Homo sapiens: one gene and its partner. The protein of the gene in region 1 purifies or fractionates together with the protein of each later gene. This does not show direct contact. Each region holds a gene or a part of one and is shown in the gene's direction. Other genes may lie near its edges.

What was found. Proteins that work in one complex are often made in the same cells at the same time.
Region 2: the proteins of BIRC7 (region 1) and ZC3H7A purify together in Homo sapiens (affinity purification with mass spectrometry; 3 studies listed by BioGRID and IntAct, with this or other methods). This does not show direct contact.

Annotation. Positions count from the first base shown.
Region 1 is NC_000020.11:63,232,005-63,238,916, forward strand, and holds the start of BIRC7 (baculoviral IAP repeat-containing protein 7), read left to right. Parts: upstream 1-3,900; 5' UTR 3,901-4,092; coding exon 4,093-4,441; exon of another isoform or gene 4,442-5,898; coding exon 5,899-5,998; intron 5,999-6,391; coding exon 6,392-6,473; intron 6,474-6,564; coding exon 6,565-6,610; intron 6,611-6,774; exon of another isoform or gene 6,775-6,838; intron 6,839-6,912.
Region 2 is NC_000016.10:11,794,235-11,801,433, reverse strand, and holds the start of ZC3H7A (zinc finger CCCH domain-containing protein 7A), read left to right. Parts: upstream 1-4,175; 5' UTR 4,176-4,310; intron 4,311-4,905; exon of another isoform or gene 4,906-5,215; intron 5,216-7,199. UniProt on the Homo sapiens protein: May be a specific regulator of miRNA biogenesis. Binds to microRNAs MIR7-1, MIR16-2 and MIR29A hairpins recognizing the 3'-ATA(A/T)-5' motif in the apical loop.

The DNA of each region.
Region 1 (6,912 bases):
TGAGGGCTGCTGGTTGCCCACTTTTTTGGTTATCTCTTGATGATACGCTAAACAAGGGGTGGATTATTCATGCCTCCCCTTTTTAGACCATCTAGGGTAACTTCCTGATGTTGCTATGGCATTTGTAAACTGTCCTGGCGCTGGTGGAGAGTGAGGACGTCCAGAGGTCACTCTCGTGACCATCCTGGTTTTGGTGGGTTTTTGTCGGCTTCTTTGCCACGACCTGTTTTATCAGCAAGGTCTTTGTGACCTGTATTTTGTGCTGACCTCCTGTCTCATCCTGCGACTTAAAATGCCTTCACCGTCTGGGAATGCAGCCCGGTGGGTCTCAGCCTCATTTTACCATTTTACCCAGCTCCCGTTCAACACGGAGCTGCTCTGGTTCACATGCCTCTGACGGTTTCACCTTCTGCTCAGAGCATTTGGACCTCCACAGGCTCTGACTCAGCCCTCTTATCCCAGGCTGATCCCATCCCCGTCTAAAAATCCCACTAACTTCCTTCTGAGAAAGTTGAGAGTCTTGTTTATACTAAAGTGTTAATGACTCACAAAGCATTCCCAGAGGAAAAGTTAACAGGAGGAGACTGTGAGGCTCTGGCGGTGAAAGGTCAGGCATGAGCCCTGGGGGAGATGTTTTCTTCTCTGGAGGCCCCTCCTGAGACCCCCCATCTCTGCACAGGAAGACGAACCCTGTGCCCAGCGGGTCCACCTATCTGCCCACGTGGCCCCAACCCCAGGCTTCATGGAGTAGAGCAGGGCTCATTCGTGTGGCACCCACACGCAGTTTCAGGGCGTGGACTTTCCCGGATGGCTGGGTGGCTTTGGGGGAGGTGTGAGCTGTTGGTGGAGAATGCTGAGCCCGGCCCTGACGACGGTCCTCTTTTCCTGCCTTAATAGGCTAGTCCCCATCACTGTGGGGGGCAATTTGGGGATATTCTCCTCCAACTCCTGCTGGTTCTGAATCTTGCAGGGAGCTGCAAATCCCAGTCACTGTGGGGTCTTGGGGCTTCTAGGAGTCCCTGCTGGGCCCAGGGCTTTTTTCTCACTGACCTGGAGGCCTCTCCCCACGGCTCCCCATCTGACATCTTCTCAGCTGGGAGACTTAATTGTAAAGACTCACAGGGATCCAGGGGGCATCACAGGGGGCCCTCCTAGGTACTGACAGATGTTTATTCATTTTGAAAAATGGGCAAATAGCAAATAAAGATGTTTAGGGTATGTTTGGAAGAAAACAGCAAAATAGTAACAGCAGTGCTTACCGCTCAGCGGGGAGAAGGCATATGGGTTTTCCCAGCTTTTATTTGGAAATCATTGTAGATGCAGAATTGCAAAGAAGCCTAGAGGTGTCCATGCACCCTGCCCCACCCCACGGTATCATCCTGCAAAGCTGCAGGGCAACTGCCAAATCCAGACACACACGCCCCGGTGCCCACAGGGATGGCTCAGACATCGAACTTCGCTTTCTTTATACTCCCAGTATTCCCGACACTTCTGGAATAGGCACATGACCATTATTTTTAGCTCCTTATTTCTTTTTATTTAATTAAATAAGCAACATATGGATAGTCCTTGTTTTGAGAATTTTGGGCCGGCCGCACACGGCAAAGCAGCTGAGCGCCCCTCAGCAGCTCCCTGCACAGTTACGCACTGGGATGGCACTGCGATGCGTGTGGAGAAACACCTGCTGGGTTTGGAGGTGCACAGGACCTCGGGGCGATCCCACCGGAGGAGCGGGGCTCGGCTTATGGCCCAGCTAACCCCAACTCCCCAGTGGGCCCCAGGGCCTTTCCTTCCACTTCCAGGAGTGACACCAACCTTGTCTCCTCTCCGAGCCCCAAGCAGTGGGAAGAGAGGGTCCCATAACAGGCCATGGCAGCGGCCTCTGCTGCCTGCCCACCTCAGAGGGTCCCCAGCTTGAGAGTTCAGAGCAAACCTGGGTGCTGCATGTGTCTCTCCCCTGGAAGAAGCAGGCTGGAGACAGTGGCCCCTCTTCCCACCTCCCCGGTGCACTGCGGGCAGACTGGGAACCAGGCAGCAAATCCACCCAGCTTGAGGCCCACGTCCTCCTGAAAGGGCCCCAGGCCCACACCCGGGGTTTTGCTGAAGTGACCAAAGGTAACCGCTGTGCTGAGGGGGCGGTGGAGGACAGGGAGGGGGCGAAGGCGAGGTGGGCGCTGGAGGACGTGGGGGTGAAGGCGAGGTGGTCGCTGGAGGACAGGGAGGGGGCGAAGGTGTGGTGGACGCTGGAGGACAGAGAGGGGGCAAAGGCGAGGTGGGCGCTGGAGGACAGAGAGGGGGTGAAGGCGAGGTGGGCACTGGAGGACAGAGAGGGGGCGAAGGCGAGGTGGGCACTGGAGGACAGAGAGGGGGCGAAGGCGAGGTACCCTGAGATCATCCCAGAAAACACACTGGGAAGTTCTACCTTGTGTCTAGCCTAACTCCTTTGCTGGCCCTCAGGCCCTTTCCCGACAGCCCTCCCCTCCTATGCCCCTGAGCTTCCTGCTGCCTCTCCCTCTGCGCCCTGCAGCCCTGGCTTCTGGGCTCTATCCTCAGCAGGGCCTGCAGACACCCCAGAGGCCTTAAGAGCCTGGGAGGGGTTTCCAGCCACACCCTTCACTTTGATTTCTGCAGGAAACCAGGTGGCTCTGGGCCTTGCATAGGAAAGGGTTGGGGGTCTCGCTGGGGCCTGGCAACACTGGCCTGAGTATGACCAGAACAGTCACCAGAGGCCTCCTGGGAGGGCGGGTGCAGCCCCAGCCCCCGCCGTGAGTGGGGGTCGGGGGGCAGGTGTGAAAGTGTGGTGGGCAGCAGCTGGGTCTATGCGGCTCAGCAGTGGGAAGAGAACGGGCCAGGCTTCCAGGTGAGCTCAGGGACGGTTTTCACTGCAGCTAACCCTCTCCTGCCCACCTGCGCTCCCCGTGGCAACCAGCGGCCCTGCAGCGTGCGACTCCTCTTTATTCTTCCAAACTCTGTGAGCCTGCACGCTCCCATCCAGGACGGAACAGCAGGGGAGAGTGGCTGAAGGATGACAGGGGGCTTTTAGGGCCAGCCGGGTGGATGAGCTGGGTTTGCTGGGGTTGAGGGCTCAGTCGGGGGTTGGGGGGTGTCGAAGTCTGGGCCCCATCCAGCTGTCCTTTTTGTCCCGCCCAGGTGTCCCTGGGGTTCCTGTTCTGCCCCTGGCTTCTCTGGGGTTAAGTCCTCCTCCCTGTTCCCTCACTGTGGGGTTTGGCAGTGTGGCACAGTGTGGAGCTTGGACCGGCAGCCAGGGTCACAGCAGACCTCAGGAACTCCGATTCCAGTGCCAACACTGAGTACTCCTCTTTTGGGGGCATCAGAGCCTCTCCCTTGGCTACCTGGGGAGGCTGGTATGGAGGGAGGTGGAGGGAGATGGGGGAAGGGGGAGCGGGAGGTGAGGGCAGCTCGGGCCCTTCTTTTTGCTCTGATCTTCCTGGCCTGAGGACAAGAGCTGCTCCCAGACCTGCAGAGGCCCCTTGGGGCAGAGGGATGTTTCAGAGAACAGCCGGGTGACCTGCCTCCCTGCTCTGCGTGACGCAGCCCTAGGCCCCTGTGAGGCTAGAGTCACCCCCGCAAGGTGGGAGGTCACGGCCCCTGCCTGCACAGGCAGCACAGCTCACATGTCCTTCCTTGAGCCTTCTCTGCTTCCGGAGGCTGCCCTGGGCGCCTGACCTTGGAGCCATCATCTCCAGCTCCCCAACCCCTCCCCCACAGCCCTGGGGCAGACACCAGCCTGGGGAGGGGTCTCCATGCTCAGTTCCTTCCCGTCTTGTTCAGAGAGACGTGGCCTGCCCACGTGCAGTCAGCGGCATCCGCAACCCTGCCAGGGGCCCCGTGACACGCCCCCGCTGCACAGAGCATGTGACCCCAGAGGCCACCCTGGCCACTTCCAGAAAGCTGTGGGCCCTGGGATACTCCCCTCCCAGGGTGTCTGGTGGCAGGCCTGTGCCTATCCCTGCTGTCCCCAGGGTGGGCCCCGGGGGTCAGGAGCTCCAGAAGGGCCAGCTGGGCATATTCTGAGATTGGCCATCAGCCCCCATTTCTGCTGCAAACCTGGTCAGAGCCAGTGTTCCCTCCATGGGACCTAAAGACAGTGCCAAGTGCCTGCACCGTGGACCACAGCCGAGCCACTGGGCAGCCGGTGATGGTCCCACGCAGGAGCGCTGTGGACCCCGCTCTCTGGGCAGCCCTGTCCTAGGCCTGGACACCTGCAGAGCCTGGGACCACGTGGATGGGCAGATCCTGGGCCAGCTGCGGCCCCTGACAGAGGAGGAAGAGGAGGAGGGCGCCGGGGCCACCTTGTCCAGGGGGCCTGCCTTCCCCGGCATGGGCTCTGAGGAGTTGCGTCTGGCCTCCTTCTATGACTGGCCGCTGACTGCTGAGGTGCCACCCGAGCTGCTGGCTGCTGCCGGCTTCTTCCACACAGGTCAGTCCCGGGCGGGGGGGCCTTCCTGCCGTGGGCCTGGGCACGATTCTGGACCCTTCCAGCCCAGGGCTCTGCCTCCTCCGTAGCATCCATCCCCCAACAGGAAGGGTCTGGCCTGATGACGGAGCAGTGGTCCTGCAAGCCCCTCCAGTGCCCATGGGCTCGTGCCTGACACCCTCCCCCGGAGTCTCTGCTGGCTGAGTGTTTCAGACCGTGGGATGTGAGGAGGGGCTGCCTCTGGCCACAGTCTGAGGGTCTCAGCTGTGGAGGCCGCCAGCTTGGTGCACAAGTACCCCTTTGTGATAGAAGTGGGTGGGGCTGACATTGCCTGGGGCCCTCACCTTCCCCGCTGCTGTTCTGCACAGGGAGAGGAGATGTTTAAAGAACAGGATCAGGGTGACCAAGGCAGGCAGTGGTCAGCCAGAAGGTCCTGGATGCTCAGCCTGTGGGGAATTTCTCCAGGCCCCAACCTGCAGCTACTGTCTGGTCTTCCCCAACTGAATCAAGTCCCCGGAGTACCTATCCTAGTCTTGGCCCGGGCCTGCTCCTCTGCCCTACAGCTGCAGACCATGTGGTCAGACCTGAGTTCAGGTCCCAGCTCTGCCACTTCCTGGCTGAAGGACAGGGCAGCAGGGCCCACCGAGGGCTTTACAAATACTGGCACAGCCATGGTCATTGTCAGCAGTGGGCTCTGGCGGGGCACCATCCTGGTAAGGCTGGACCAACTTAAGACAGCTGGTCGGGGGGACAGTGGCTGGGACAGTCAGAAGCCGTGGCGTGAAGGGGCAGGCCCAGCTCACCCACCTCCCTGGAAGTCCAAGGCTCAGGAGGCAAAGGCCAGGCAAGAGGCATGGCAGGTGCAGAGCCGGGGTCTTTGGGGCTGGTAGAGGTCCAGTGCCCGATGCAGCCCAAACCTGTGATGTCAGTGGCAGGTGACGTATCGCATGGATGCCGATGAGGGGACGGGGTCGCCAGGAGGTAGAGAGATGACGGGTCCCCCACCCCCAAAGGGAGGCATGAGTTCCTAAAAGCAAGCCTGGCCCCAGACTGGCCTTCTAGGGCAGCCTCCCTTCTTCTTCTCACTGGGAATCCATCTTGGGGAAGCAGAGACCTGGGGAGGGGCCCTTCTGGCTCCTGAAGCCCCAGGGCTATAGATGTACCAAGCCCTGGGGGGCCCCCACTGCTCACTCTGGGAACAATGCAAATGCCAGCTCAGTCCTTTCCTGAACATTCTCGCCCATCCTGGCCGGCACCCCAGTCACCCTTGTCCCCTTTTCACCTTTGATGCTAATGAGGTACAAGTGACATCCCCCACCAAGCCCCCTGCCCACCCCCTCCTCCTTCTTGCCACCTGGGAGCTCCCCTCCAGCTGAAGCTCTCATAGCCTTGGAAGGACACACCGGGGGCCCGGGGACTGGGTGGGACTTGGCTGGGGCCAGCATCTCTCCGCACCCCAGGCCATCAGGACAAGGTGAGGTGCTTCTTCTGCTATGGGGGCCTGCAGAGCTGGAAGCGCGGGGACGACCCCTGGACGGAGCATGCCAAGTGGTTCCCCAGGTACCGGCTGCCCCTGCGGGGCCCCGGGTCTGATCATGGGTAGGGGGTGGGCCCCCAACGGCTCTGTCGACCCAACACCAGGCCTGCTTTGCCTCCCTGGCCCCACAGGGCACTGGGGAGGCCCTTCTGTGGGAGGTGCTTCTGGCCGGCAGGTACCCACTTTTCCTGTGAGGGCCCCTTTTCGGAAGGGCTGCTGGGGGCAGAAATGCCTCTCCCATGGGACTACCCTGAAGCCCCATGGAGGCGTCTCCACAGCAGCCCTCCTCGCCCATGCCCACGGGCACTGCAGGGTGGCGGGAGGAGGGGGCCCAACCCTGACCCCCGGGGATCCAAGGGCTTGAAGCAGACAGTGGGGGCCCTGAACCCCAACCTACATCTCTGGGGCATCTGCAGCTGTCAGTTCCTGCTCCGGTCAAAAGGAAGAGACTTTGTCCACAGTGTGCAGGAGACTCACTCCCAGCTGCTGGGCTCCTGGGTGAGCGCCACCTCTCCTCGGGGCTCCGGGTGGCAGTGGGGTCCTGCCCCTCCTATTTCCCCAAGGCCTGATGGTCTCTGGCTCCTTCCAGGACCCGTGGGAAGAACCGGAAGACGCAGCCCCTGTGGCCCCCTCCGGTGAGAGCTGACACCACCCCTGCTGACTCCTTGTGCGCCTGCAGCCTGTGCTTGGCCAAGGCCACTGGGTGTCCCCACCCTCCCAGACAGCAGGGAGAGTGACGGGCACGTGACAGGGTGTGACGCTGCTGCCTGGGTTGGCTTCAGGGGGCTGTGCCATGTGAGGGTGGGGGCGGGGCGGCAGGGGCCTCCCCCAGTGCCAGGCCCCATTCTGCTTCTCTCCCAGCTTACCCCTTGGGCACAGCCCATTGCCTGTCGCCATACCACCCCCAACAGTGCCCAGCACACAGCATCTGCAGCTA
Region 2 (7,199 bases), on another chromosome or scaffold:
TGTTACCTAGCAAAAGGGAGTTTGCTATTGGGATTAAGTTACAATCTTGAGATGAAGAGACCATCTTGGGTTATCCAGGTGGACCCAATGCAATCACAAGAGCTTTTTTTTTTTTTTTTTTTTTTGAGATGGAATCTCACTCTGTCACCCAGGCTGGAGTGCAGTGGCATGAGTGCCTCAGCCTTCCAAGTAGCTGGGATTACAGGCACCCGCCACAACGCCTGGCTAATTTTTGTATTTTTAGTACAGATGTGGTTCCGCCATGTTGGCCAGGCAGGTCTTGAACTCCTGGCCTCAAGCGATCCGCCCACCTCAGCCTCCCAGTGTTGTGATTACAGGCGGGAGCCACCGCATCAGGCTTTTTTCTTTTCTACATGCACCACTGCATTAGGATATCTCCTACTCACGCTTCTAATCAGATCTTAGCCTCAGGCTTGCTTGAGACATCCACTCCAGAAGTATTTAAGGGGTGCTACCTACTATCAAGGGGCTGAGAATATAGGACAAAAGAAACTGGTTTGGGCCAGGCGTGGTGGCTCATGCCTGTAATCCCAATACTTTGGAAGGCCGAGGTAGGTGGATCACCTGAGGTCAGGAGTTCAAGACCAGCCTGACCAACATGGAGAAACCCCGTCTCTACTAAAAATACAAAAATCAGCCGGGTGAGGTGGCGGCGCACGCCTGTAATCCAAGCTACTTGGGAGGCTGAGGCAGGAGAATCGCTTCAACCTGGGAGGCAGAGGTTGCAGTGAGCCAAGATTATGTATTGCACTCCAGCCTGGGCAACAAGAGCAAAACTCTGTCTCAAAAAGCAAAAACAAAACAAAACAAAAAAAGCAGAGTCTCTGCTCTCCTGTAGGGTTGGAGGCCGACCACAAACAAGCGCCCAAATGCCTGAGACAGGAACAGCACTGGGTGGTCACAGGAGGATGGAAAAACCCAAACAGCTGAAACAGGAACTAGGCAAATAAACCATAGGATAACAGAAAACCCAAGGGAGAGAAGATGGCCAAAACTCTGGCCAGGGTGACATGTCCATGCTTCTTCCAGCAAACCCAGATAAGGAAGAAAGGAGACAGTAATTGAGGTGGAGGTCCCTGAAATCCCCTCCCTTTCCAGAATGCCTAACGATAATTCCATCCTGTAACTAAAAGAAACACCCATAAAATTAGGAACCCAAACTCCATTGTGCAAGACTCATTCTCACGGGCATGCCTGCACTTCTCTCTTAAATGTGTATGTTCACTTTGCAATAAAAGCTTCTTGCAGCTCGGTGCAGTGTCTTACAACTGTAATGCCAGCACTTTGGGAGGTCAAGGTGGGAGGACTGCTTGAGCCCAGGAGTTTGGGACCAGCCTGGGCAACATGGCAAAACCCTGTCTCTACAAAAACAAAAAAAACCCCAAAAACTTAGCCGGTGTGGTACTAGTCCCAGCTGCTCAGGAAGCTGAGGTGGCGGGAATCACCCGAGCCCGGGAGATCAAGACTGCAGTGAGCCATGATTGCGCCTCTGTACTCCAGCCTGGGTGACAGACTGAGATCCTGTCTCAAAAAAAACAAAAACAACAAACAACAAAAAAAAACCTTCTTGCCCTTTGCTTCATTCAACTCATTCTTGAATTCTTTCTCTCCAAGGTGTCAAGAACCTGGAAACTGGCTGGGGCTGGGGTGTCACCAGTATCCAGAGACCTCCTGAGCCTTCTGGCAACAGGACTAGACGAGGTCATTTCAGATCATGATGACTGCTTGGAAGATCAGATAGGGCGCTGTGTTAGTGAGCAACTTTTAGATGGGCTGTCAGTGAAGGCCTCTCCAAGAGAGGCTACTGTAGTTGAGGCCTGAATGATGAGCAGCCTCTGGTCACGAGAATAATCCACCCCTTTCTTTTTCTTATTTTGTTTTGAGACGGAGTCTCGCTGTGTCGCCCAGGCTGGAGTACAGTGGCGCGATCTCGACTCACCACAACCTCCACCTCCCAGGTTCAAGTGATTCTCCTGCCTCAGCCTCCCCAGGAGCTGGGATTACAGGCGCCTGCCTCCATGCTTGGCTAATTTTTGTATTTTTAGTAGAGACAGGGTTTCACCATGTTGGCCAAGCTGGTCTTGAACTTCTGACCTCGTGATCCCCCTGCCTCGGCCTCCCAAAGTGCTGGGATTATAGATGTGAGCCAGTGCGCCCGGTATAATCCACCCCTTTCTTAGAGGAGCTTCCCTAAAACCACAGCCCATCAGCTCTCCAATATCTGTTGCAGCACTTACCTGGTGTTACGGACTGAAACGCTCCCCGCTCCGCACATACCCACCCCGGAGTCCGTATGTTGAAGCTCTAACCCTAATATGGCTATTAGGCATATTAGGCAGTCATTAGGGTTAAATGAAGTCATAGGACCCTTATACTTTTTTTTTTTTTTTTGGTACAGACTCTCTCTCTCGCCCAATATGGAGTGCAATGGCGCGATCTCAGCTCACTGCAACCTCTGCCTCCCAGGTTCAAGCGATTCTCCTGCCTCAGCCTCCCGAGTAGCTGGGATTACATGTGCACGTCGCCATGCCCGGCTAATTTTTTGTATTTTAGTAAAGACGGGGTCTCATTGTGTTGCCCAGGCTGGTCTCCAACTCCTGAGCTCAGGCAATCCATCTGCCTCGGCTTCCCAAAGTGCTAGAATTACAGGCGTGAGCCACTGCGCCTGGCCTAATACGACTATTTGAATACGGCCTTTTAGGTAGTCACTGGGGTTAAATGAAGTCATAGGGTGGGGCCCTAATCTAGTAAAATTGTTGTTCTTGTAAGAAAAAGGAAGACACACCAGGGATTCCTGCTCACAGAGAAAAGGTCATAGGAGGACACAGTGAGAAGGCAGCTGTTTGCAAGCCAGGGAGAGAGGCCTCACCAGAAACCAGCCCTGCCGGCACCCAGACCTTAGATTTGCAGCCTCTAAAACTGTGAGAAAATAAATTCCTGTTGTCTAAGCTGCCTGGTCTGGGGTATTTTGTCATGGCAGCCTGAGCTAATACTCTGGTTTGTAAATCTACGTCACCCAGACCCCTGGAAGAGCTACTGTAGCTAGAGTCCCCACTTCCCCTCTTGTCTCTCCTACAGCCCAATCTCTGCATAGTAGCAGGAGAGAACTTTCTAAAATATAAATGAGACCTCGGAACTCCCAATTCAGACTCAATGAATGACCCCCTTCCACACAAAACTCCAAATTAAACATGGCGGCCCCCCTGTGTCACAGATCTTTCTCCCCTCTGGCACACATCAGCTATGCAGGCCTTTCCTGTTATCCAGACACCGAACTCCAGCTTCAGGGCTTTTGCACTCATTTCCCCTCTGCCTGCGGCACACTTCCCCGAACACGGTTGCATGGCTGTCACCTCCTCAGAGGCTTTCCCAAAAGCTCCTGTCACATCCTCCTGCTTGAATTTCTTTGGTCTTCACCGACCAAAATGGTCTTCTTTGGGCTCTTGTGGGTCCTGATCTCCGCCCTCCATCCCATGGGGCAGGGACCCTGCCTCGCCCACTGCTGAGCTGAGCATTTTACAAGAAGCCGTGCCCGCAGCGGGGCACCTGGCCGTAAAATGCAGATGGACGAGGCGGCATTTGGGCTGGGCCCTGAAGGACAGGGATCCAGGCCTTCCAAGAGCCGGCAGATGGAACTGGAGGGAGGCTGTCTTTGGATCCCCGGCTGCCGTGGGGCTCCGCGCCTCCGTTCCTCATATGTAGGAATGAAGACAATCACGGTTGTTCTGAGGATGCAGGGTTACTCTTCGCAGAGCAGGGCGCCCCGGTTGAGGGCTCGTCAAGCTAAGCAGGCTCCAGGGTGGGCTTCCCGATGCCGACTCTAGCTCCTCTCCCCGCTGGACGCTGTTCTACCTCCTAGCGCTTCTGCTCAGGCCGCGGCCCAGGCGAGGCCCCAGAAAACCCCGGTGCTGGTTAATCAGTCTTGAGTCCGAGCGCGTCCAGTGCGCAACGTGGCCTTCCCATTGGCTCACCCAGTGGGCCGCGCGTCGACGCCGGGGCTCCGGATTGAACGGCGCGCCCAGGTCCCTGCCCCCAGTCAGACGTGGCGCCACCGCCCCCAGCCCGTAGCTCCGGCGCAGCCAATGGCGGCGTCTCCCGGGCGGCAAGCGCGGCCTCCCGCCGCTAGAGGGCGCCGCCGCGGGCGCAACCGAGCCGCTGCCGCCGCCGCTAACCGAGGGAGAGCTGCGAGCGAGCACCCAGGCCCCGCCGCCGCCGCCGCCACCGCTGCCCGCCTGCCGCCGCCCGCCTCCGCCTGCCTTCTGCCGCCGGCCGGCGCGTCGTCCCCACAGGTAGGGGTAGGGGGACGCCGCCGGGCATGAAGGAAACGCGCGCGCCCGCGCCCCCGCCCCCCCCGCGCGCGCCGCCGCCTCGTGCTCGCGCGCGGCCGTTAACGGACGGCGGGCGGGGCGGGGGAGGGGCGGCGGGGTCCGGGGCCCGCGGACCCGAGAGGACCCTGAGAGGAGCCGGGCCGGGGCCTGTGCGCGCGGAGGGACGGGTGGGCGCGCCGTCCCCTTCCCCCACCGAGAATAACGTGACCCACTTCTGCCTGCCATTCCCTCGGCAAAATGTCTCCTTTTTGGTGATTTCACTAAAAAAAAATTTTTTTTTTGGTTATTTCTGTCTGCTCTGGTGATCGCGGGGATCCCGATTCAGCGTCTTGGGCTTGGGGGCGGGAAGGATGCCGGCGGAGAGCTTGGCGCATTAATTTGGGGCTCATCCGTCTTTTTTACCCCCCTTTCTGATTTTTTTATTTTTTCGCGCGGGGTGCAGCCCTGGGCCGGGCGGGGAGAGGCCTTGGGGTCCGCGGAGGCGGGGGCGCCGCCCGGGAGGACCGGGACCGGGACCTGTCAGTTCCCATTAGCGGGGCTTCCGGTCAGGCCTGGGCAGCAAAGGGGTGGGGCCGCCTGAGGCCCGGCCGGGGCCTCCGAGGTCGAGCCTGAGTCGGGACTGGGTGGATTTGCCAGGAGTTGGGTATTTTCCTGTCCCCACCTGTCTAGGGATGAAAAGGAGTTGCCCGTGTTCGGTATTGAACCACGAAGGACCTTGCCATGCCCAGTACGGTGGCCACTGACCCCCCGCCGTTTGGGACGATGGAGCCCACGAAATGGGGCCAGTTTCAGTTGCGGTCCCAGCTGTGAAACGTACATCTGATTTTAAAAACTTCGGATGAGAAAGAAAGTAAAAGATGTCATTGGTAATCTTTTATACTTAAATGCATGTTGAGATGGTCATGTTTGGGACAAATTGGATTAACGAAAATAGATCATTAAAATTAATCTTGGCAGGATGCAGTGGCTCATGCCTGTCATCCCAAAACTTTGGGAGGCTGAGGCAGGAGGATCGTTTGAGTGCAGGAGTTCAAGACCAGCCTCAGCAACATAGTGAGACCCCTGTCTCTACAAAAAATACAAAAAATTAACTGGGCGTGGTGGCGCACGCCGGTAGTCAGCTACTCGGGAAGCTGAGGTGGGAGAATCTGCTACTCGGAAGGCTGGGGTGGGAGAATCCCTTGAGCCCAGGAGATTGAGGCTTCGGTGAGCTGAGATTGTGCCTTTGTGCTCCAGCCTGGGACACTGTCTCAAAACAAACAAATAAAAAAACAAAAGTTAATCTCACTGCTTTTCTTTTTCTCTTTTTTTAGTGTGGCTATTTGGAAATTTAAAATGACATATACGGGCCGGGCGGGGTGGCTCAACGTCTGTAATCCCAGCACTTTGGGAGGCCGAGGTGTGTGGATCACCTGAGGTCAGGAATTCCGAGACCAGCCTGGCCAACATGGAGAAACCCCGTCTCTAGTAAAAATACAAAAATCAGCCAGGCGTGGTGGCAGGCGCCTGTAATCCCAGCTACTGGGGAGGCTGAGGCAGGAGAATCGTTTGAACCGGGAGGCAGAGGTTGCAGTGAGCCGAGATTGTGCCACTGCACTCCTCCCTGGGCAACAGAGCGAGACTCCCTCTCCACATACATGCGTACATACATACATACATACAATGACACGTATGGCTTATTTTGTGTAATATATTTTGTACAATATTTCGACTGGACAGCGCGCAGCTGGGGCATCTGAATGGGTGGTGGCCCTGAGAAGACATGTCTATCTGCTTATCTTTCCTGCTTCTCTGATGGCATGTGGCCTCCTTCCCTTAAGCTCTCAAAGAATCCACTGCCTCTTCCTTCTCATACTGAGCCAAACTGTTGAACTGAATTGCACAATGGGTCTTGTCCTAATTTGCAGAATAATTCAAGTTAATGGACAGTATTTTCCCTGTTGAAAAATTTTCCCTATCTGCTGTATGCTGGAGGCTACAAATAGTTGTATGAGGTTTGTCTCAGGATGAGATCATGAGTTGTTGAGGCTCAATATTATCAATATTTGTGCGTGTGTGTTTGTGTGTGTGTGTTTATTCTACAAAGAGCCCGTTGATTTTCTGCCATCCAAACGAAGTGGAGAATTCCTGCCTTTCTTCATGTTACTGTGACTTTTCGTTGGGGGTTTTACACAGACCTACACCCTCTTTCCTTCCCATTCCCCAGATTCTGTCAGTTTTTGCAAATAAGAATGGTGGCTTGTCAGCCACATTGTTCCACAATTCTTAGTTTTGACTGATTTTAAAACCTGCCAGTTGGGGTGGGTTAAATTGTCATTGTAAGTGGAAGAGAATCAATTATAGAAACTCTCAACTCCAGGGATGGTGAGAGTGACTGTTGGAAAGTTTTGAGCATTTCAGTAAAGGAAGAAAGAAACAAAAGACGTCTGTATCCTGTTGCCACAGATACCCTAGAAAGGGCTTTCTAGAGACAGTATGATGTGAGCAAACTTTTGTCTTCTGGATAACGTCTGGAAGTGTTCTGTTTTGTTTTGTTTTTTTTCTAGTGAAAATATTTTTCTCCAGAATCCTTATGAAAATTACTTAAAGTGTGAGGTGTTGGCAAATCAAGAAGAAATTTTAGATAATTTTTAAGGAGGAGAGAAGTATTAAAGTATTAATCCAGAAGTTTAAAAATTACTGCTAGTGATAACGTTTTAATTTACATGTACACAAAAGGCATATTAAATGAGGTGATTTTCGTTTATGTAAAGCAACGAGGTTACTTTTTCACAAATAGAAAGCGGGAAGCTTTATGTTTTCTGAAAAGGCCTGAATTTGGAGCAGGACATTAATCTGGCACATTTGGTA